Linked DNA regions of Homo sapiens. The protein of the gene in region 2 interacts with the protein of the main gene of each other region in a pairwise test. Each region holds a gene or a part of one and is shown on either strand. Other genes may lie near its edges.

Evidence for each region. Proteins that work in one complex are often made in the same cells at the same time.
Region 1: the proteins of PTPN9 (region 2) and TMEM86B interact in binary tests that used the Homo sapiens proteins (3 or more experiments, as listed by UniProt).
Region 3: the proteins of PTPN9 (region 2) and BSND interact in binary tests that used the Homo sapiens proteins (3 or more experiments, as listed by UniProt).

The regions. Positions count from the first base shown.
Region 1 is NC_000019.10:55,225,686-55,233,640, forward strand, and holds TMEM86B (lysoplasmalogenase TMEM86B), read right to left. Parts: upstream 3,079-7,955; 5' UTR 3,057-3,078; coding exon 3,006-3,056; exon of another isoform or gene 2,801-3,005; coding exon of another isoform or gene 2,753-2,800; coding exon 2,506-2,752; intron 1,879-2,505; coding exon 1,496-1,878; 3' UTR 953-1,495; downstream 1-952. Other genes in the region: PPP6R1 (serine/threonine-protein phosphatase 6 regulatory subunit 1), read right to left, coding at 4,843-4,846, 4,928-4,999, 5,089-5,199, 5,725-5,806, 5,913-5,983, 6,117-6,297, 6,390-6,526. UniProt on the Homo sapiens protein: Catalyzes the hydrolysis of the vinyl ether bond of choline or ethanolamine lysoplasmalogens, forming fatty aldehyde and glycerophosphocholine or glycerophosphoethanolamine, respectively and is specific for the sn-2-deacylated (lyso) form of plasmalogen.
Region 2 is NC_000015.10:75,575,946-75,584,522, forward strand, and holds the start of PTPN9 (tyrosine-protein phosphatase non-receptor type 9), read right to left. Parts: upstream 3,371-8,577; 5' UTR 2,832-3,370; coding exon 2,769-2,831; intron 1-2,768. UniProt on the Homo sapiens protein: Protein-tyrosine phosphatase that could participate in the transfer of hydrophobic ligands or in functions of the Golgi apparatus.
Region 3 is NC_000001.11:54,994,790-55,002,384, reverse strand, and holds the start of BSND (barttin), read right to left. Parts: upstream 3,453-7,595; 5' UTR 3,199-3,452; coding exon 3,022-3,198; intron 1-3,021.

The DNA.
Region 1 (7,955 bases), on a different chromosome or scaffold from region 2:
CCTAAATGCAGGTCATGGATGGAGAAGTCACCTCTCTGCTGTAAGAGTCCCTAAATGCTGGCCATGGATGGAGAAGTCCCCTCTCTGTCGTAAGAGTCCCTAAATGCAGGTCATGGATGGAGAAGTCACCTCTGCTCTAAGAGTCCCTAAATGCAGGTCATGGATAGAGAGGTCGCCTCTCTGCTGTAAGAGTCTCTAAATGCTAACCATGGATGGAGAAGTCGCCCCTCTGCTATGAGTCACTGAAAGCACATCATGGATGCAGAAGTCAAATAGGGTCTTGGAGAGCAGCTTGGACCCTGTCAAGTCTTCAGATGCAGAATCTGAGGACCTGAGGGATAGCAGCTTGCCGAGGTCACACAGCCTTGACAAGGAGCACAGCTGGGTTCCTCCTTCCCATTTGATTCCTACCCCCTTGCCGCCCTCCCTCCTCCAAGACCCCTCATCCTCAAGCCTCCCACCCTTCTCCCGATACTGCATGTGACTGCAGCGGGTTGTATCCCCTAGAAAGATATGTCCAAGTCCTAACCCCAGATACCTCTGCAGGTGACACTACTTGGAAATAGGGGCTTTGCAGACATACTTAAGGATCTTGAGATAGAATCACCCTGGGTTTAGGGTGGGCCCTAAATCCAATGACCTGTGTCCCTAGAAGGATGCGGACACAGAGGGAGGCTGCCAGTTGAAGACAGTCACATGAAGACGGAGAGACACAGCCACAGGCCGATGGAAGCCAGGGATTCCCGGGAGCCTCCAGAAGCCGAGAGGGCAAGGACGGATTCTTCCCTGGAGCCTCAAGAGGGACCATGGGCCGGAAAACACCCGGATTTTGGACTTTGGGTCTCCAGAACTGCAGGAGAGTCCATTCATCTTGTTTCAAAGCATCTGGCTTGGGGTAATTTGTGACAGCAGCCTCAGGAAACTAACACAAAGACCAAACAGTCCTCTTGGCTCAGTTCTGCACAATCCTCACTTTATCCCCCCGAATCCCCCCACCAGAGGGCCATGGAGGGTCCCACTGGGCACCAGGCCTGGTCCATGGGGAGCGACAAAGAACCTTCTGCTGTCATTAACCGCGATGGTTTATCACAATCATGACCCTCCCCGAGGCCTCTCCTACGGTAACAGCAACATCTACGGTTCCACACCCACAGGGAAAACGGATTCAGAGCAGCAGCAGGGGGCGGGCAGGCTGTGGGGCCGACAGTGAACATGGAGGCAGGCTGGTGGCTGGGAGGGCTCCATGTGGGCCTGGCTGAGGAGCCAGGGATCTGGAGTCAGAACCGGGGGAAGGCAGCTGGAACCCAGTAGTGGACTTGGAATTCCGCAAATCGTCCTCAAACGTCTTCAGCCAGAAGCGACGGCGGCAGCGGCGCCTGCAGACAGGCGTCAGGAAGCTTCGCTGCTGAGGGTATTTCTCAGGCTGGGCTGGGCTGGGAGGCCCAGGTCCTTGCAGGAGGAGAGGGCCTGAACACCGGCCCTTCAAGCTCCCTAGTCAGTCAGTCTTGGGCACCGGGCTCCTGAGGGCTGACAGTGTGATGAGGAGCTGGGCAGCATAGTAGGTGGTCATGATCACCAGGTGGGCATGGGGCAGGGGCTGGGCGAAGGTGTCCCAGGCCAGCACGCCATCAGAGAGCGTGAAGAGCAGCGCGCCCCAGCCGGCACTCCCGCCCTGGGCCAGGCCGCGCCACAGCATGGCCATCAGGATCAGCCCATAGGCTGCCACCGGCAGGACCATATCCGGCTCGAGGTGCTGGAGCACAAGGCTGAGGTAGGGGCCAGGGGCCAGGATGATGAGCAGCAGCAGGCCGGGCTGCAGGGGAGAGAAGCCGAAGGCCCAGACGTAGAGGAGGTGGGCGGTGGCAAAGGCGGCCATGCCTGGCGGGAGAGGGGTGGGGTACCAGTGAGGAAGGCCCATCCTGGGAATGGCCCCGAGGTCACCCCTCAGGGCCTAAGAGAAGGACCATCCCAGAGCACCAGGCCCCACCCTGGCCGAGCCTCCTTGCAGGTCTCCCCACATGCAGTGTCCATCCTTGCTCTGCTCAGAACTGCCAGGAGGCCCCACCTTCCCTTGGCCTCCAAAGCCCCATGGCCTCCAGCTCTCCAGCCACTCTGCGCCAGCCACCCTGGCCTGCTGGGCTACAAGCACCTGACACGTCCCTGCCCCGGAGCCTTTACACTCGCCCTTCCTCCACACAGGCATACAGCCCTTCAGCTCTGCCCAAATGTGACTTCCTCAGTGAGGCCTTCCTCAGCAACCCTGCTTCAAACTGCAGTACCTCCAGCAGGTCCTCACTGCCCTCTGCGCCACCTCAGCTACTGCCCTAACACCGCCTGCCCCCACCCCTCGCTGGAGCGTGAGCTGCCTCGGTCACGGCTGCGCCCCCCACTGTGCCTTTGACCACTGGAGCTCTCACAGGAGCCCTCTGCACCCAGGCTCCCATCCAAGTGCTGGGGCCTCTCTCACACGGGCATCTGGAAAGCGTCACAGCACCTTCCACTCACCAGGGACGAAGGCTGCCGGCCAGATGAGGCAAGCGTCCCCCACAGCCGAGCACACAAGGGCTCCCTGGAGGAGCTGGGTGTAGCCCCCGCTTGGGGACATGACCCACAGGAACCCAGCCAGGCAGAGGACGGGCAGGCACTTGACCAGGGCAGCGAACCAGGACAGCTGGTCCTCGGGAATCCAGAGGCAGAAGTACACGCAGCAGGAGAGGATGAAGGGGCTCAGCCACCTGCAGACATCTGGGCGCTTTGGGGAGTGGGGAGCTACTGAGCCGAAACCCAGCCCAGCCCCCATTCTTGGGACTCAGATCTCATGGCTCCTGTCCCACCCCCACCTGGGACCCCAGCTGTACAGGCTGGACCCATTCAGGGACCAGGCTGCCAGAACCCAGCTTCCCAGGGCCCAACCAACTCAAGGACAGCAGCTCCCAGACCCGCCGGCTGCTGGGGTTCCAGGGCCCTGTCCCCCCAGCCCCAGGCACAGCTCAGAAGGCTCTCACCTGGGCTGAGCAGTGAGTCTTCAGGGTCTGCCCCGCTTTGCCAGCGTCCATGCTGGCCTGATAGCCCCAGAGCGACCTAATCTGGGAGCGAGTGGCTTCAGGGGGTGGAGGGGAGGGCTCATGGTTACACGTTAACCCAAGGAGCGTCCTGTGGACTCTGTGACTGATAACAGGGCCCAGGGAGATGTTGTCCTCACCCTGGGGATGGCCCTGCCTGGCGCCCGCTGATAAAGCACTGTTGGCACTGGGGGTCCCTCTGCCCTAGCCTGCTGGGACATGGCTTCCTCCTCCTATCTGCCTGGGGAGGTTAGGCCCACAAATGCCTGTCCCCTTGTCCTGGGCCCCAACAATCAGAAGAGATGGGGTGCAGAATTCCAACAGCCACCCCATCATGGGAAGCGGGAGAGGGGCTGGCTGGCAGGAGTGCCCCTGGAGGGATGGGAAGGCGAGTCTGTCCTTCACTTGCTGCCCTAGCCGTCTCCCTCCCTGCTCCATGAAACCTTTCCTCATTCTGCTCAACCCCACCAAGCCCTCAGGGGCTCCACCACAAACACTGCTTCAATGGGTGACCAGGAGGGACCACCACGAATGCGGGGAACAAGCACCCTCTCCTGTTAGCTGAGCGAGCCCCCAGGTGACCTCCAAGCCAACTGCCACCCCAGTGAGGACGCTGTCCTCATGGCCCGGTCCACACGCTCCGGTTTCCCAGCGCCGCTCACCGGTGCCACTCGCTGCACACGCAGCCTACACTTCTACCTTCTACCTGAAAGACTCAGACCTACTGGGCGCCAGTACCCAGCCTCAATGCTGGGCTTGGTTACTGGGGGTAAGCAGGGGCAGGAGCAGGGATTTGAGCCTGTCGGTGGCTTCTATCCTCTGCCCAAGGCCCTGCCCACAGGTGGGGTAGACCTGGCAGGAGCCCTCACAGCCAGTGCCTGGCCCAGCCTGGGGCCTCTGCAGCCACAGGGCTCCCTCTGGCAGGACAGTGTGGGGGCAGACTGGGTCAGGAGCACCCCCAGCCTCTGGGGTGCAGGGATAATACAGGCTCCCCACCCCGCATCCCAGAACGTAAGGTCTGACCAGCAGAATCGTAAACTGCCTTCCTTTATTTATATTTGCAATATGAAATAGAAGCTCGGCACAAACGCACGCACACTCACACCAGCCTGGGAGGAGGGAGCTGGGGACAAGGTCACTTGGCAACAGGGCTGGGACCTCAGACCCTCAAGGCCCCTGGGGCTGTTGCCGGGGAGGCCCCTGCTCCCCAGAGCCGGACTGGCCTGGTTGAAAGTGCAGGGTCTGGGCAAAGGCACGGCCCCCACTCGGGACCCTCTGGCACCCCCACCCACGCTGGGCCGTCCCCCATGGTGGACCTGAGCTAAAAGGCCGGGTGTGGGCGTGGCCGTCTGCGCTGCAGCGTGGGACAGCTGGGCACGTGGGTGGCAACCTTGGGACCCCTAACACCAGCTCCCGCTGGGACGGAACAGGGAAGGCTGTGCTTTGGAGCCGCCAGCCCAGTTCGGTGTCCTCACTCTCTCTCGCTCTCCTCCCTCTCTCTATATAATATATAATATATGTTTCTCTCTCTCCATTCTCTCTATTTGACTCTCTGTATCTTTATTCTAGGAGGCAACGCTCCAAAACTTCTCTTCTCAGTGCAAATGGGGGTGGGTTGGGCCTGTCTCCCTGGCACCAGCCTCCTGGGGGTCCAGAGGAGAGAATGTGGGGGTGTCAGGGTGATGAGGGCAATGGGGGCCATCGTGGGACCCGCCCTGCCCCCACCCCGGGAGATCCACGGGAGGACGGAAGATTTGGCCGCCGCTGCCGCACCAGGCAGCTATCTGGAAACAGAGGGAGATGTCGTGTGAGGGTCTAGCAGGCCCAGCCCCACCTACCCAGCCCGAGGCTGCAGCCACACTCACTGGGAGCCTGGGGATGCAGGCCCTTCCGGGGCAGAGCCATTGGGTATCGGAGGAGGCGTGAGGGCCTGGGCACTGTCAGGGGAGAGAGGGGATGTGCAGAGGTCACTTCCTGCCCCACCAGCCCCACCCCCACCCCCCCGCCCTGCTGCCCTGGTGCTCACCTCTGGCTTTGGGGAAGCCCCAAGGGCTCTGGGCTCTTCTCCCCTTCTGTGGTCTGGGGGGGCTGGTGGGCCCCGGAGGCTGGGACAGAGGTAGAGGGGTCTCTGGTTGCACTGTGGGTGAGAGGCAGGTGCGGCTGTCAGCGTGGCCCCCACCGTCACCTGCTGACACCCTCACATCCCACCCGACTGAAGTCGGCTCACTGGGTGTGTGTCTGCCACCTGCCCCACGGGGAGGGGCCTCCCGAGGACGCAGCTGGCTCAGCGTGGAGGGACAGCACAGCCCTGGACAGGAAGACAAGCACCCCTCTTCCCGCCTCCTGTCCCTGTGGAGGAGGTACTCGAGGCCGGCTGAGACAGCCCCAAAGGGTCTTCTGCATGCTCTCACCCTCCCAATCCTTCACACCCTCCAACGAGCCCTTCCCAACCCTGGGGCTCAAGGGCCCCAAGCATCCCAGGCTACTAAGAGAAGAACCAGCCTACAGAGTGCAAGGGGCTGGGGCACAACATGAGGCTGCGCCTGGGGGTCCTGCAAAGGAGGCCTGGAGCAGCTCAGGGACAAGATGAACCCAGAGCCCACCTCAGCGAAGAGGAGAAAAGACTTCTCCCGATACTAGGCAGCCCCACCTCGCTGCTCACCTGTCCGAGGAGCTGGGGGCAGAACGGATCCCGTGGAAGGTGGCCTGAAGGTCCCCGATGCTAACCAAGGCCTGGCAAGGGGCTGTGGGGGATAAGAGATCTCAGCTGCAGCTCCCAGCAAGCTCGGAGCTGGCCAGGCTGCTCTCTCTGCCCAGGGCCGCGGGTGGGCAGGGCAAAGCGGGGCTCACCTGAGGGCTCCGTGACTTTGCTGCCTTCTGTGGCTTCCTGAGGTGCTGAGGGGGGTGTGGGGTCCTGAGACCTGGTAGGCGAGAGAGGCAGCCCAAGGGGGCAGCTAGGGTTAGCACTCGAGCCTATGAGAGGACGGGGACCCCATGGCCACCTCCTGGCCTCGGGATACCAGCACCATTTAGCCCGTTCCATCCGGTTCTCACCTGAGCTGCAGGGCGTCACGGGCAGGAGGGCTGGCCAGGCTCTGAGTGGGGAGGCCCTGGGGCACACTGAGGGGCCCCTGTGGGGCTGGAGGCCCAGTGTGCAGCTCTTCCTCCCCGGAGACTCGGGGGCTGGTCGGGGCATCTGTAGGCACTGGGTCAAAGGTGGCTGTCCAGCTGGGGCCTGGGATAGAGGTGGGGGAGCGGGATGGAGGGTGAACTCAGTAGCAGGCAGACAGCCCTGTGTACACCTGACCACACCGCCCATTCATTCACCTGGAGGCTGAGGGCCAGGGCTGGGGTAGGACAGAGGGGTGGCCCCTCCACGGGCTGCACAGCCAATGCCCTCCTCGTCTTCCTCCTCCTCCTCGTCCTCCTCTTCTTCGTCCTCACTGTCTGTGCTGCCTCCACTCCTGCCCCAGAAACCACCTCGTCAGCTAGCTGTGTGGGACAGACCGGCCGACACCCATCCTGTTCCCTGCAGCCCAGGGTCAGCCCAAGGAGAGCGGGCTGGGATGACAGGCAGGTCACAGAAGGGTCCAGGGAGCCTGGGGTGTGACGACACCAGGAGAGGCTGGGAGAGGGAGTTCTGAGCCAACGGCAAGAACACAGGCGGGCAGGGACAGAATGCGGCCGTAAGGAGACCGTCCGTCGCCAGTCATCCGTGGAGGGCAGGCCCTGGGGAAGTGGGCTGAGCCTCAGCCATGGCAACCAGAGCAGACAGACCCACTCACCAGCTCTCAAGCCACCTCCCAGCCGTCACCTCACACGGTCACCACAGTGACAGGCCTTCCCACCAGCAGGCCCACCCTCTGGACAGAGGCTTCACACTACTCTCTCCCTCCAACTAGAAACTCCAAGAAGGCAGAGATGGCTGAGTTTTGCCACTGCTGTATCCTCAGCCCTGAGAAACCACCAGGCACCCATAGCTGCTCCAAAAACACTGGCTGAATGTTGACTAACACACACCTGTGAGCATGAAGAAAATCCAAGCAACCTACGTGCTGATCAACCGGGGAAGGGGTAAGCAAAGTAACACTAAAACTAAGCTTTAACAACGAGGGTGCACTCTGAAAAACGCCATCATTAGGCGATTTTGCTATTGTGTGAACATTCTAGAGTGCACTTACACACACCTGGATGGTGGCGCCTCCTGTACACCTAGGCTCTGTGGTATAGCCTATTGTTCCTAGACTACCGACCTATACAGCATGTTACAGTACTGAATACTACAGGCAATTCTAACAATGGTAAATGTTTGTGTATCTAAACATAGGAAAAATACAGCAAAAATAGAGGATTATAATCTCACGGGACCACTGTCATATGTGGTCCATCGCTGACCCAAAGATGCAGTATGGGACTATATACTATGTCTAAAATGCTGACCCAATATTTTTGTCTTAACAGAGTAACTGACTACTTTAACTGGAAAGTAATATATCTGTATATAGTTAAAAGTAAACTAAAATACTCAACGACTAAGGAGTATAAAGGAAGCCCCTCAACCTAACATAAGGCATCTACAAAACCCCACAACTAACAGCATGCTTACATGGCAAAACGCTGAATGCTTCCCCCTAAGATCAGGAACAAAACAAGGATGCCTGTTCTTGCCACTTCTGTTCAACATTGTCCCGGAGGCTAGCCAGGGCAACCAGGCAAGAAAAGGAAATTAAAATCATCCAGATTTGAAAGGAAGGAAAATGAACTCTATTCACATGACATGATTCTGTACATAGAAAATCCTAAGGAGTCCACTAAAACTATCAGAACTCATACATTAGTTCAGCAAGGTTGCAGGATGAAAGATCAACATACAAAAACCTATTGTATTTTCAT
Region 2 (8,577 bases):
ACTCTTGGCTGGGCACAGCGGCCCAGGCCTGTAATCCCAGCATTTTGGGAGGCCAAGGCGGGTGGATCACGAGGTCAAGAAATCGAGACCATCCTCCAACATGGTGAAACCCCGTCTCTAGTAAAAATACAAAACTTAGCTGGGCATGGTGGCACGCACGCCTGAAGTCACAGCTACTTGGGAGGCTGAGGCAGGAGAATCGCTTGAATCAGGGAGGCAGAGTTTGCAGTGAGCCGAGATCACAACGCTACACTTCAGCCTGGCAACAGAGCAAGACTCAGTTAAAAAACAAAAGGGTACTTCTGGCTGTGTGCAGTGGCTCACACCTGTGATCCCAACACTTTGGGAGGCCAAGGCGGGTGGATCACCTGAGGCCAGGAGTATGATGAGACTAGCCTGGCCAACACGGTGAAACCCCATCTCTACTAAAAATACAAAAATTAGCTGGGCATGGTGGGTACCTGTAATCCCAGATACTCAGGAGGCTGAGGCAGGAGAATCGCTTGAACCCGGCAGATGGAGGTTGCAGTGAGCCGAGATCACGCCATTGTACTCCAGTCTGGGCAACAAAACCCAAACTCCGGCCAGGCGCAGTAACTCACGACTGTAATCCCAGCACTTTTGGAGGACGAGGCGGGCAGATCATGAGGTCAGGAGTTCAAGACCAGCCTGGCCAACATGGTGAAACCCCGCGTCTACTAAAAATACAAAAATTAGCTGGGCATGGTGGCAGGCGCCTGTAATCCCAGCTGCTCGGGAGGCTGAGGCAGGAGAATCGTTTGAACCCTGGAGGCAGAGGTTGCAGTGAGCCAAGATCAGGCCACTGCACTCCAGCCTAGATGACAGGGCGAGGCTCTGTCTCAAAAAAACAAACAAACAAACAAAAAATCAAAACTCCATCTCAAAAAAAAAGAGAGTACTCTTATGTGATATTAAACTAAAATATGGTAACATTAGGCATTACCATAATTAGAACTATACTGCTTTTGTTTCAATATTTTGAAATGCTTGTAAAAAAATAATATTTTGTAGAAAAAAGAGATAAGATTTTAAAAACACACACACACACAATCTCTTGACTTTAATAAACATTTTGCCGTTTCCATCCTAGTCCTTGTTAATGCCCATCACATTCAATTCAGGGTAAAAGATAAGGTTTTTACTAGTTAAACACATCTGTATATATGTGTATGCACTATGTACAAAGTAAAGCCAATACCATGTCAATACTATCAATACTTTAATATTTACTTTTCCTGGTTTTAGTTTTCAAATTTGCAACGGATGCTATTTGCATAGAATACTGATGGCTTTAAGTCTTAAAAACAGAAATCTGACTGACCCAAGGAAAAGGATGAAAGAAAGAGATTTTGTCCCTTTAAAATCAGCCAACACATCCTATCTTAGTACTGAAGTACTTCCCAATTCTGGCAGAATGGGCTCCTTGGCCACCTGCTTGCACTAGGGTCTGACTAGCATTTTATTAACATCCAACTGCAGTTACCAGGACATTCATTACCACTGCTTGTACAAAGCAGAATTCTTTTTAAATTTTTTTCCCATACAGATTTCATCACCAGGTGTCAAAAGACAAAACCGTGGCCTGAGGCCAAATAGAAAAATGTCATCTCCACAAATAAGGAGAAAAGACAAGGACTTTAAAAAATCAGGTCAACAAGCCCATTAGCCAATAATAGTTTGTAAAACTGGACTGTCTTCACACTAGAGGCTGTGCTAGCAAATGTGGTCCTTGGAAACAAGAGCTGTAGAGCTTGAAATGGGTTGCCAGCATGGTTTGCCTTTTTCTTTTTTCATGTTTATTTTTATTTTTTTTATTTATAACATGGAATCAGACTATGACTATAATCGAGCATAGCTATGGCGGGGTATGGGCAGTGCCAAGGAAGAGACAGCGAAAAGCCCGTAGGGTTCCCAGTCTAAGCTAGCAGACCTTCCCATCTTCCTCAGGAGTGGTCCCTGTCTCCGCAGCTGGAATGTGCGGGAGGGAAAGTTACAAGGGCCCCCAAAATGAGACAGCAAACCACTTCCTTCTGAAAACTAAAGGTCATAGGCTTTTAAGGAACAATAGAGCTCAATGTAAGCTTCAGAAAGATGGAGACAGTCAGATGAGACGAGGGTAGGGAAGCGCGGGTGAGGAGATGCGCCCCGTCTGGGATAGCTGAATAGGGGGGTCAAGGCCAGGGACTTTAGGAACACGAGAAGGGCTGGATCTTCCATAACCTGCCCAAGTGGGCCTGAGAAACCTAAGAGGCTCCTCTGAAAATCTAGGGCATCTATGCATCCAATACTCTCAGCCCTCTCCTCGGGAAGGGAGATAATCCCCACAGGAAGCACCCCCCAAACTGGGGCTTTTCCTGCCCTTCAAAAGCCACAAACCCTCACGGAAAACATTTACAAGGGAGTGGAAGGGCCGGGGGCAAGCAGCGGTTCTGCAAATCTCGGGAAGAAGGCCCCTGGATCCAAGGAACTTTGCCCCTGGAATAGGGGGTGGGGTGCGGAGGGCACCGTCTGAGGCTGGTAAGCCTCGGCGAAAGAAGCGGCGGGAACGGGAGTAGGGTCCCGTGGGTCCCCCGACGAGGGGGTGGCGGCCTGGGGCGCGGTCGCCGGTGAGGGAGGCCCGCGAGCCGGGCACGGGAGCGGGGGGCTGCGGCCCCGTGGCTGCAAAGAGCCGGCACTCGGGAGGCAGAGGCCGGCGTAGGCCTCGGGGGCCCGGACACACCCAACGCGGCGGCCTCGGGCCCGCTTACCTGCTCCTCCTCCGGGGTCAGCTCCGGCGCCATGTCGGGCCGGGGCGCGGTCGCGGGCTCCATCCCCCCGCCACCGCCGCCGGGCGGACAAAACTCGCTCGCGAGCGCGGGAGCCCGGCGCGCTCGGCCTCCGCTTCCGCGTCCCCGCGCCTCAGCAGCCCGGGGCCGGCTCGCGCATAGTGTGGCCGGCAGGGCCCGGCGCCTGCAGCGGCCGCAAACGCCGCTTCTGCTTCCTTAAGAAAAATCTCTCCGAACTGCCGCTCTCTTCCGGGAGGAAATCCTTTTTTATATTATTCGCTCCGTTCCTCACACTCCCCCTTATCTCCTGGGGAAGAAAAAGTGCAGGCGAAGAGCTAACAGCCACTCGGGATTTAAAAGGAAATAGGAAATCAGGAACTTTTAGAGCCGGGAGCGAAGGGTCGGCGGAAATTTCCCGAAGGCCGCCGACCCCCTCGGCGCCCCGCTTCCTCGGCCGCGCTCCCGCTCCTCCACAGCGCCACAGAGCTCGGGGCCGCCCAGCCGGGCCGTCCTCGCGGACGCTGGCCCTGCGACCTGCGCGGCTGCCTCAGCCAGGCTCCTCGCGGGCGGCCGCAGCGAAAGGGAGGGAGTGGAGAGGGAGCGAGGGAAACGCGCCCCCCTCCTGACTCACGGCCAACGCTGCGGCCGCCCCGCGGCCGCCCGAGCCCCCCGCGGCTCCATTGAGAAACTGAGCGTCTCATTCACAAGCTGGCGGCGAGGAGGGCCCGGCGGAGCGAGGACGCAGTCCGGGAGGGGGAGACAGAGAGGAGCCCGGGCGGGGGAGGGGACCGGGAGGGGGAGGGGACCCGGGCGGGGAGGGGACCCTAGCTGGACGGAAGGCAACTCGACTGCGGGAGGGAGAAAAAGGAAGAAAAGAGTATTTCGTGAGGCTCAGATCCTCGGAGGAGGAGGAGAATACGTTCGTTTGCAAATTATCTGCTGACTGGCACCTCTCCTGGGGTTAACTTGCCGCTGCCACCTACGCGTGAGAAACCCACAATCCTCAACTATTTGTCGCTTGCAGCCTGAAAGACCCTGGAAAGGTTGCCTGCCAGGCCAGGATGCTTAGGTGGAAGGAATCGCACCTGCCTCCCTCTCTCTCCCTCCTTACTGGCTGCACCCTGTAATTCATCTCCAGTGTCGCTAATTTTAATCCCCCATAGAAACGACATCAGACTCCGAACATCATTCAGGAATGACGCGGCCTTTGCAGACCTTTGATTTTCACTAGGGCAAGTGCAGCAAAGGGTTCAGGATTAGGGGTACAGTCTTGGAGTCATTTGGGGAGGAATGGGGCATAGAGAAGGCAAGGCTGGGTCTGGTACGTTGTTGCATTATTCCAAGCCAAAGATAAATATTCCAAAGGGACCCAAAGTCCACAACTAGTTCCAAGGCTGAAGCCCTGGAGCCAGTCCTGAGGGACCCAAAGGAGGGGCCTTCAGACAACAGGAAGGTGCTGTGAGTTGTGATGCTCCTATGATTTTTTTTTTATTTTTTTTTTTGAGACGGAGTCTCTGTGTCGCCCAGGCTGGAGTGCAGTGGCGCGATCTCGGCTCACTGCAACCTCCACCTCCCGGGGTCAAGCGATTCTCCTGCCTCAGCCTCCTGGGTAGCTGGGATTACAGGTGCGAGCCACCACGCCCGGCTAATTTTTGTATTTTTAGTAGAGACGGGGTTTCACCATGTTGGTCAGGCTGGTCTCGAACTCCTGACCTTGTGATCCGCCCGCCTCGGTCTTCCAAAGTGCTGGGATTACAGGCAGGCGTGAGCCACCGCGCGCCTGGCTTTTTTGTTTTTCTTTTTTTGAGACGGAGTCTCACTCTGTCACCCAGGCTGGAGTGCAGTGGCGCGATCTCGGCTCACTGCAAGCTCCCCCTCCCAGGTTCACGCCATTCTCCTGCCTCAGGCTCCCAAGTAGCTGGGACTACAGGCACCCGCCACCGCGCCCGGCTAATTTTTATTTTTATTTTTTTTATTTTTTTGTATTTTTAGTAGAGACGGGCTTTCACCATGTTAGCCAGGATGGTCTCAATCTCCTGACCTCGTGATCCGCCCACCTCGGCCTCCCAAAGTTGTTGTTGTTGTTGTTGTTGTTTTAACACAGGGTCTCACTTTGTTGCCCAGGCTGGAGTGCAGTGGCGTGATCACAGCTCACTGCAGCTTCAAAGTCCTGGGCTCAAGCAATCCTCCCGCCTCAGCCTCCTGAGTAGGTGGGACTACAGGTGCACACCACTGCACCTGGCTAATTTTTTTTTTTTTTTTTTTGGTAGAGATAGGGGTCTTACTATGTTGCCCAGGCTGGTCTCAAACTCCTGGTAAACTGCCTTTGCAAAATTATAACTGATGATTTTATGACAGTGAAAGAAATCAGACCTAACTGACTCTATCTTGTTTCTAACCCTTAAGCTGTCCTTGTTCATTCCTGGGCATAGGCCGAACTAACTTTGGGAAGGAATTCAGTTCATGGTTTGACTCTGAAACAAAATTGATAATAGCCCTTTCCCGAAAAGACCCCCTTCTTCCCTGGGGTCCAGTCTGCCTTTGCAGGACTAACAGATTAAGCTACAAGATTAGAAATTACAATTTAGGGGTCATGCAGCCATGGGCTCCAAGAGTCTAAACCTCCCCAAACTGCTCCTGGGGATAACATCACTATTGTAAAACCTAAGATCAGTGCTTGAGATATTTTGCAGACCCTGCACCCAGTGCATCAGCTGATACCATCCAGACTGGTAATCTGGCCCAAATAGGTCTGCCATCCCAACCAGGAACAGAAGACAGCAAGAAAAACTCATTTCAACTCCCTATGATCCAATCTCAAACCTGACCAATCAGCACTCTCCACTTCCTAAGCCCCTACCCACCAAATTATCTTTAAAAACTCTGATCCCTTAATGCTCCAGGGAGACTGATTTCAGTAATAATAAAGCTCCAGGCCGGGCATGGTGACTCACGCCTGTAATCCCAGCACTTTGGGAGGCTGAGGCAGGCGGATCATGAGGTTAAGAGATCGAGACCATCCTGGCCAACATGGTGAAACCCCGTCTCTAGTAAAAATACAAAAATTAGCTGGGCATGGTGGCGCGTACCTGTCGTCCCAGCTACTCGGGAGTCTGAGGCAGGAGAAGCGCTTGAACCCGGGAGGTGGAGGTTGCAGTGAGCCAAGATCGCATCACTGCACTCCAGCCTGGCGAAACAGCGAGACGCTGAATCAAAATAATAATAATAATAATAATAATAAAACTCCACTCTCCTGCACAGACGGCTCTGTGTGAATTACTCTTTTGCCATTGCAATTCCCCTGTCTTGATATATCCGCTGTGTAAGCAGCAGGCAAGGTGATCCCATTGGGCAGTTACACTGGGCTCAGGCGATCTTCCTGCCTCAGCCTCCCAAAGTGCTGGGATTACAGGTGTGAGCCACCGTGCCCAGCCTTCTAGGATTTTTGTTTTTGTTTGAGATGGAGTTTCGCTCTTGTTGCCCAGGCTGGAGTGCAATGGCACGATCTCAGCTCACTGCAACCTCCACTTCCCAGGTTCAAGCAATTCTCCTGCCTCAGCCTCCCTAGTAGCTGGGATTACAGGTGTCTGCCACCATGCCTAGCTAATTTTTCGTATTTTTAGTAGAGATGGGGTTTCACTGTGTTGGCCAGGCTGGTCTCAAACTCCTGACCTCAGGCAATCCACCCGCCTCAGCCTGCCAAAGTGTTGGCATTACAGGCATGAGCCACCATGCCCGGCTCCTTCTAGGATTTTAAAAACAATCCCTGACCTCAACTAATTTCTGCATTAATGCAATAGGAACTTCAGGCTGCCCTTGGTAAGAATCAGAGACGATATCCTTGGTATTTGAATCTTTATCTCAGCTAGGATATTTTCTCCTTTGCATCAATACAGCTGACTGGAGGTTGACTTCATCACTCCTTTAGTTTCAGTATTGTAACCAGTCTGGAATACTTTTTTTTTTTTTTTTTTTTTTTTTTTTTTTTGAGTGGAGGTCTTGCTCTGTTTCCCAGGCTGGAGTGCAATGGCGTGATCTCGGCTCACTGTGACCTCCACCTCCTGGGTTCAAGCAATTCTCCTGCCTCAGCCTCCTGAGTAGGTGAGATTACAGGCGTCCACCAGCACACCCTGCTAATTTTTGTATTTTTAGTAGAGACAGGGTTTCACCATGTTAGCCAGGCTGGTCTCGAACTCCTGACCTCACGCAATCCGCCCACCTCAGCCTCCCAAAGTGCTGGTATTACAGGCGTGAACTACTGCATCCAGCCTGCTTTCTTTTTATTGAAGTGTAATATACAGAAAAAGTACAAATATAAGTGTACTGCTTGATGAATTTTTTTATTTTATTTTTTGAGACAGGGTCTCACTCTGTTGCCCAGGATAGAGTGCAACAGCACAATCCTGGCTCACTGCAACCTCTACTTCCTGGCTCAAGCGATCCTCCAGCCTCAGCCTCCCAAATAGCTGGGACTATAGGTGCGTGCCACCAGGCCTGGCCCATTTTTATATTTTTTGTAGAGATGGGGTTTTGCCACATTGCCCAGGCTGGTCTCAAACTCCTGAGCTCAAAGCAATCCACCCACCTCAGCGTCCCAAAGTGCTAGGATTACAGGCGTAAGCCACTGCACCCGGCCAGATGAATTTTCATAAACTGAACACACTCGTGTCTGTGCCCAATGCACAGATCAACAAATAGAATATTCTGAACTTGCCAAAGCCTCGCCTTTTGCCCATCCCCCACCCCACAGTCAGTTACTACTCTGCTGAAGGGTAACCACTATCTTGCCCGTTTTTTTTTTTTTTTTTTTTTTGAGACAGGGTCTCTCGCTGTGTCACCCAGGCTGGAGTGTAATGGCACGATCTGGGCTCACTGCCACCTCTGCCTCCCGGGTTCAAGTGATTCTCCTGCCTCAGCCTTCAGAGTAGCTGGGATTACAGGCATGCACTACCATGCCCATATAATTTTTGTGTTTTTTTTAGTAGAGACGGGTTTTCACCATGTTGGCCAGGCTGGTCTCGAATTCCTGACCTCAAGTGATCCACCCACCTTGGCCTCCCAAAGCTCTAGGATTATAGTTGTGAGCTATCACTCCCAGCCTCAGGCTTGAACTCCTGGGCTCAAGTGATCTGCCTGCCTCCCCCTTCCAAAGTGTTGGGCGTCAGCCACCGTGCCGGGCCAAGTATGCTTTTTCTCCCTAGGCAAGCAAATGGTTCTAGGACTAAACTGGAGTAAGAAACAGCAGGACCTGAGTAGTACAAACCATTGATTGGAGACAGGAGAGGATGGAGTCTCTCAACTCACTATTTACACTTCACATTTGTTTTGCCCACTGATCCTCAGGACACCAGGGGTCAGTGATTTATCCAAAGTCACACAACTAAATAATTAGTATTGAGCTAAAACTTGAACCCAGGCATTCTAACTCCTGATCTAGGAACTGGGTGAGGAGGAGAATTAATAAAGATATTTAACTGAGTGGGCTGAGAGAGAACTCAGCAGTGTTTTCAGAGGCACAGCTGTGTGTGTGGGCGTGTGGGTGTGTAAGGAAAGAGAGTTCTCCGGAACTGTTATCCATCACTGTTTTAACAGGACAATGTTTGGAAATTTCTGAGCACAAACGTGAATAACAAAACAAAGTGCAAGGCGGCTGGCTGGCCAGTTTGTTTTGAGAGGTAAATCCAGGAGACCCAGAGTAGAGAGGCAACTACCTGGCTTGCCTGTAACTGCAGGCTTGAACCAATGAACTCAAGTATGGTACTGTCATCCTGCCCAATCAAATCTTAAAGGC
Region 3 (7,595 bases), on a different chromosome or scaffold from region 2:
CCTTTCCCTGCTCACAGCTCCCCTGCCCCATCTTCACTAATGGGCTCAGCACCTCCAACTGTCCCATCCACTAGATTTGCCCTGATCCCTTCTCCTCTCTCATGCCTGAGGCCCAGCTGACCACCAAATCTGACCAGGTCTACTTCAGAAATTCAATAAGATAACCTGGGTGGAAGTGCTGGTGCTATGCCTAGCCACAACGGGTACTCTATGTGAAGTGAACTGTAAATGTCACCTTAGTTCCTACAGCTTTGTGTTTGAATTCTGCATTATTCCAGATGACTGTCAGCTCTCACCAAGACCAGAGAAGAAGCCTCCCCACTGGTATGGCTGCCCCCAGACCTTCCTTCTTCTGGATGTCTTTCTCAAACTGCAAAGCTGGTCGTGTCCCATTAACTAAAGGACAAGCTCCAAATTCCTTACCATGGCATCCCAGGCCCTGAAGAGTTGAGCCCCACTCCCTCGCTACCTTTACCTTCCTCCCCTCTGCCTCTCGTAGCCACAATGGCCCACTTGCCTTATTCTTTTACCACATTGCTTTGATCATGCTACTCTTCTGCCTGGAATGTCTTTCCCCATCTTCTCTGCTTGGTGAACTCTTATCTCACCTACAAAGCCCAGCTCACCTTCTCTGTGAAGCCTGTTTCCTCCCCATCAGGCAGCAAATAGCCTCTCCCACTAGACCTCTAGCCCCTAAAAGACATGGACAGCTTAATGCATGTTGGTATTGGCTACCCCTCACCCCTATATCCTAATTAGCTAATTCTATTCCCTTATATTTATATCTCCCCATTTATCAAAACTTTCCATAGGTCTGGCACAGAGAGCCACGGGGAGGAGGCTGAGGGGAGGACAGGCAGGAGCACTGCAGGCAGCGTTGGCCCAGGCACCAATGAGACCAAGCAGGATCCAGGGAGCTTCGCCTCTAGAGTGTCTCCCTGGTTTATAAGGTGCTTTCCTCCCTTCCCTTATTGGAGTCAATTTGTGCTGGCTCTACCAGCCTGCATCTCTGAAACACACACTCACACACACCTGCACTCATGCAGAGGCCCACCCAGTGCCGCAAATACCAATCCTCAATCCTAAGAACAATGCCTTCACATATGTTCCATGGCAGGTGTGATGCCAGGTCTCCCCCAACACACACACACACACACACACACACACACACACACACACACACGATCCCACTGTGTTCTCCCAATCAGCCGTACAAGGCTCAGAGCTGAGGGGGAGGGACTCTTTCTGCCAAGGTCACAGAAGTGGGACATGAAGGAGCAGGGATTTGAATCTGGGCCTGGAGGTTGCCACAACATGTGCCATTTTCAGCCCACCACGCTGCCTCCACAGCACGTGAACCCATGAATCTATCAACAGTTACTCATTAATACCCAGCAATATTCCCTCCTCCCCTCCCCTCCCCTCTACCGTCACTCCCATCAGCCTACCAACCATCCCAGAGCCAGCTCTATTTAAGAGCGGGGGCAGGAAGGATGCTCCTCTCCACACCTCTGCCATCCCTCTGCTGTCCCCCAGGGTCCAGCCTCCTCACTGGGAGAAGGATTATAATAGCAGTGGTGACATGAGTGGCTTTGGCCCCAAGGACTTCTCCCAGTGACCTCTGCTCAAGGAATTGCACAGACAGAGGCAAGTTGACTGTAAACTGCCTGCTAAATGACTACAAACCAGCCCAGACCGCTCCAGCACTGAACAGAATGACAGCCCAGGGTTGGCCCGTGGAGGGGGCAGGGCTGGGGAGAGCCGGCCCAGGCCCCAGGGAGCCATCCCCCTTCTTCCCTGAAACCCTGAGCACAGCCACCCAGGTGGGAGGAGAGGAGGTGTGGGGGTTGCTGAGGACTGCCTGGACCTGGAGCCCTAGATATTAGGTCCAGCAGGGCCCCCAGATATACCCCCTTTCCCACCCCCCCCTCCTAACTCACACAGTGTACAAATGAGGAAACTGAGGCTCAGAGAGGAAAGGGGCTTGAGCAAAGTCTCCCAGGCAGTAAGAGACAGAGCCCAAGTTAGAGTCCCTATTTCCCTCCTTTTCTCCCTGGGTCTGTACCTGACCAGCTGTGTGACCTTGGAAGTCACCCAGCCTCTCTAGGCATTGAAGATTCGCAACTCCTGGCATTTCCATTCCACAGAGCTGTTGGGAGGATCAGTATGGGTAACAGTGGTAGCCCTTCATCTATAAATAACACCTTACAGTTTACAAAATATTCCTATATCTTATCTCTTCTCTGATCTTTATAATGACCCTGTGAAGCTCTGTGGAAAATAGGGGCAGGGATCTCATTTGCAGATGAAAAAAATGAGGCTCAGAAAGACAAAGGTCATAGAGAGTTTGGAACAGGACTTGAACTAGAACTCAGGACTCCCAAACCAGTGCTCTTCCCATCACTAAATTACACATAAGGCTGAGAATACATGAAGACTCTAAAGGATACTGCCCAGTGCATGCCACCAAGGTTAGACCTGACCTACCCTGGAGCTCTCAGTCGCTCTGGGACCCAGAGGTAGAAGACCCAAGGTGAAGGGTGACGTGTAAGTCACACGCATCTGAGCTCCAAACCTTGCTCGTTAGCTGTGCAGCCTCTCTTTCTGGACCTCAGAAAGGCTCAGAAGGTGGAACTACAGAAAGCACCAAAAGGCTTAGGATGAGGGCTGAACTGCACCCTGAACGCAGGAGTGCCTGGCAGGGGGTCAGCGCTCATTAGCTTTTGTTTCAAGCACATGGTGTGTTGTGTTTGCTGTGTCTATACCATAGCTTCCGGCTCAGGGCTCCAGATCCAGGGGCCTTCTGATCAACCCTTAGGCTAAGGGATGGATGGATGGATGGATGGATGGATGGATGGATGGATGGGACAGACGCTCAGGAGAGCAGAGAGAAGACCGAGTCAAAATGAGAAGAATGAAAAGACAACTAAAGGATAGGGGGTGAGGCATGGCATACAGGCACAGTGTCCAGCCCTCCTGGCCCCAGCTGACCTGGCCCCACCCAGCCCCACTACCACCTACCTTGGGGTAGCACTGGCACATGCTCCAGATGATGCCCCCGATCACCATGACGCTGCCCATGGCATAGAAGGTGCCGTAGACCTGGGGCCGATCATGGCTCATGAGGAACGTACCGAGGGCCAGCAGGAAAAGCCCCAGCACAATGAAGCCGATCCGGAAGGTCTTCTCGTCAGCCATGGCTGCCTGGCCAGTCCCTGGCCTGCACACCCCCGGGAGAGGGGGTGGCTGTAGTTCAGCCTAAACACCGAGACAGGCTTACACAGGGAGAGAAGACACTGAAATCGCTGCAACTCAAGGCTTCAAGGGAGAGCAAGATCCCTTTCAATCCCGCTCCAGTCCCTGGGCCCACCAGTTCAACAGGGCTGGAGGCGGCTCGCTTCAACGGACCCACACCCAGCCACCTTTACTCCTTGCCCTCTCACCTTCCCTCTGGGCCCGGCTGGCCTGGAGTGTGTGTGTGAATCTGAGCGAGGGAGCACACAGGGGAGGGAGAGTGGGAGGTTACCGGGGCTGGGCCCCAGCCAAGGCTTTGACATCACCTCATTTGCCTACTGTGGGGTTGAGCTGGGTGGACAGGCAGCCTCACACCTTCCAGCTCTAGAAAACAGGGTACAGTTCTGCAGCTGAGAGCTGTTAGAATGCTATTGGAGGATTCCAGGATCCCACAGGCTGGCATTTCAGAATCCTGAAGAATTCTACACTCTTCAAGGACATGTGCCTATCCAGGGTTCAGGAATAATGGCCCATATGTACTGGCTGGTGACTATGTGCAGGGCACCATTCTAAACATGTTACAGCTATTAACTCATTGAAGGGAACCCAGTGAAGCAGCTACTACTATCCCCACTTTACAGAGGACCCTCGGGCACAGACAAGTAACTTGCCCAAGGTCACACAGCTAAAGATGGCAGAGCTAGTGGGATGTGAAGCCAGAGGCCGTGGGCCTAGCCACGGCGTGATACTTCTTAACTGCAGCTTGAGGGTGAAAAGCGTGGCTCTGGTGGCAAGGCAGGCTGCCTGGGTTTGGATTCTGGCTCCTCTACTGTGGGGCAGTGTGGTCATGATCAGGTTACCTCAGTTTCCTCCTCTGTAAAATGGGAATAATAATGTACCTCCCAGATTTGGTGCTGTCTCCAGGCCTGGCCTCCTTGGGTTCCTCCATCCCCTTCACATTCACACGCTATGCACCACCCAGTTGGGCTTTCAATGAACTGCTCCCCACCCACCCCTAAGGCTCTCGGAATTAGTGCCCCTGCAGGGTGTGAGTGACTGACAGTCACTTCCTCCATTTCCTTGCAGCCTGATCTAGGAAGATGCCTTCCTAAGAATAACACTAATGAGGCATTTTAGTCCTAGGGACAGGCTGATGGAAGAAATCAGATTCCTTTACAGGATTACAGGAAAATGAGGACCATCGGTCTCTACAAGAGAATGTTCACTTGGCGTTTACATGGGGTTAAATCGCCGATGCAGGATAAAAGGCTTTCAATGGGCTCCCTGACTTGCTGGGCTTGGGGATTTCCTGTTGGCGGTCATCACCTTCTCCCCTCCTGCCAGCAGGGCTGCCCTTGTTCCCTAACCCCACACCTGTGCTCACAGCTGCCCCTCTAACTAGACGTCCTTCTCATAGGCCCTTTTTCCAACAGGGGTTTCTCCTTCCTCACACCCACCATCGCCAGCCCTCAGAGTCCAGGTGCACTTGACAGTTCGCAGAGGAGGTCCTGGAGGGAGCTCAGGGGCCCTGGCTGAGCGATGGCTGAGGGGCAGGAAAGGGCTGAGTTATCAGGTCATGTCCAGGTCTGGTTCTCAGGGTGAGCTCAGGCAGGTGGCTCTGCTCCGGGCTAGAGTTTTGTCAACTGCAGATTGGGGATAGGTATTAGGCCACCTCCCAGGTTTTGTACAGGGAAGGGACATAAGGGGAGTGGGAAAAGGCAAGTACTTTGTAATCTGTGACTATTAACAAAGCAGGACCTTCCACGGAAACATTATTATCATCATCTACTACAGGCTCAGAGAAGGGAAAGGGCGAGTGCCGTGTTACCTAGCCGGTGCCCCTCCCTGGAAAGGAGACGGAGGCCCAGAGGGACCTCAGCCCGTCTGGCCCTGGAGCCCAGGCGGGTGGCGGGAACGGTCTCCGCAGCCGCGGTCCTGCAGGGCCTCGTGGGCCGCCCGGCGCTGAGCAAGGCGCTTCCCCCGGGGTCAGCGGCTGGGCTCGGACCCGGTGATGAGCAGTCGCGGCGGGGAGGGGAGTCATCGCCCGCATTTCACAGGCGAGGAAACCGAGCCTGCGGAGTGGCAGGGGCTGGCCAAGGTCTCCCTCGGCTGAGTCGGCGGCTGAGCGGTGACCGCACCTCCCCTCCCAGCCCCATGTAGATGGATCTGCTCTTCAGCCATTCCTCAGAGGCCTCGCGGTCACCCGGGCAGTCTTCTTCTCTCGCGCCTTTTCTTTCCTCTACACGGCCCAGCCTTCTTCGCCCCTTTTCTCTCTGAGTCGCTTCTCCTCTTAAAAAAAAAAAAAAAAAATAAGGTAACTACGAGTAAGAAATTCAGTAGCAAGTAGGAAACAGGTAGGAACTCTGGAAAATGGGTCTCACCTAAGCTCTTCCACAGAGTCGGGCTAGGGATTAAGTAAGGACATGTGTGTAGGGTGCGCTGGAAATGTTCGGGTGCAGCAGCTCCCCCTCCTCTCCTGTAGTCCCCCCGCCCTCCCGCCTTACTTCACCTCCCCCGGGCCACCTGGGGGACTGGGGAGCAGAGCGCGCGGAGTCTTTCATCGTCCAGCAGAGGGCGCGCTAACCCCAGCTTTCGGGATCCTTGCGAGCGGGCTCCCATGACACCCCGAGGCAGGGAGGGAAAGAGCACGCCCATTTGACAGAGGTAAGCATCGAGGTCCACGCAGGCAAGGCGAGCGACCCAACGTGGCAGAACCTGGGAACAGACAGTAGAGCTAGGAGTCCACCCAGGTCCCCAGGCAGTCTCTGGTTGAGCCCCTACTGTGTGGGGGACACTGAGCTGTTAGGAACTCGTACACACAGGGCTTCAGGGATGGATGGCGCTCAGTCCTAACTTCTGGGGCACCTTCTGGGGCACAATACGGTAATGGCTTTGCGATGCGTGCGAGGTCCCGAATGTGCACAAAGCAGAGAGAGGAACAGATGGGGATGAGGGGTGAAGGGACAGATTCACAGAAGGGACACTTGAGAAGGCAGTTGGAGTTCTGACGGGGCAGGAGAAACCTCCTAGGCACAGAGGCCAGCATGTGCAAAGGCACTGAGGTACGTACCCGCCGACACACAGCTGGCGAGAAAGCTCTAAGTGCTGTGCACAGGCTGCCTGCATTGCATCTTCCTCCCCAGGCCTGCCCCTCCCATAACCCCATCCTTCCGGTTAGCAAGCCCCGTCACCAACCTCACCTCCTCCATCACACCCACATCCTATGGGCTCTACCTCCAACATGTAAGAATCCAATCACTTCTCACCCCTGACGACTGCTCATCACCGGGTCTGAGCCTCCACCATCTCTTTCTCTCCCTAACTGGTCTCTACTTCCATCCTTGACCTCTGAAGTGTCTTTGCAGCCCCAATACTGGGTCAGATCATGTCACTCTTCTGCACGGAGCCTTGGAATGGCTCCCCATCTCATCAGAGTAAAAGCCAAATGCTTTAAGATGACCTGAAAGGCTCTGGATAATTGGCCCGCGCTGCCTGCATATCAACCCTCTGAGCTTGCCTCCCGCCACGCCCCCTCTCACTCACCCATTCCACCACCCTGGCCCCATGCTGTTCCTGGAACACGCATGCATCCCAGGGCCTCCGCACCTGCTGTTCCTTCTGCCTGGAGTGCTGTTCTTCCTGTAGCTGCATGGCTCCCTCCCTTACCTTCTTCAGGACTTTGCCCAAATGTCGCCTTCACAGTGAGGGCTTCCCTGATCCTGCTATGAAACTGCAGAATCGCCTCCCCAGGGGTTCCCTGTATTCTTTTCTCAATGTTTCTCCATAGTGCTCACAGCCACCTATCATACTATATGCATGATTTATCTTGTCTCTTGTCTGTCTGTCTCCTCAACTAGAACTCAAGCCCCCACAGGGTGGGGACTTTGTTTTGAGCACTGCTCTATCCCCAGGGGCTAGGACAGGGTAGGCTCTGGATGCGTGTGTGAATAGAGGGATGGAATCTGCATGCCTGGGAGAGAGAGGCCGGAGAGGAAATGCAGGCAGGAAACCTGCTGGGGCTAAGGTATCTGACATTTTTCACAGAGGTTATGCATGGGAAAGATGAGAACCAGATTTTAATTTTTCAATTAGAGAGAGAAAGATCCCAGTGAGCAGCAATGAGCCACCGAGGGGGTAGCACAGGGATTTCTGACTGGGGTGGGCTGATTTAAGGTGGAGAGCTCCAGGGGCAGGGGTCACCAAGCCCACCCAGCGGGTAACAGAAGCCCGGGAGGGGCCCAAGGAAAGCACGGGGGAGGTCTGAGCTCTGAGGATCCCTGTCATCTGAGACTCTGGTGGCCAGCACAAGATGAGGTCTGAATAGGGGGTGAAGAAACTGGATGGTCGGGCCCAGGAGGAAA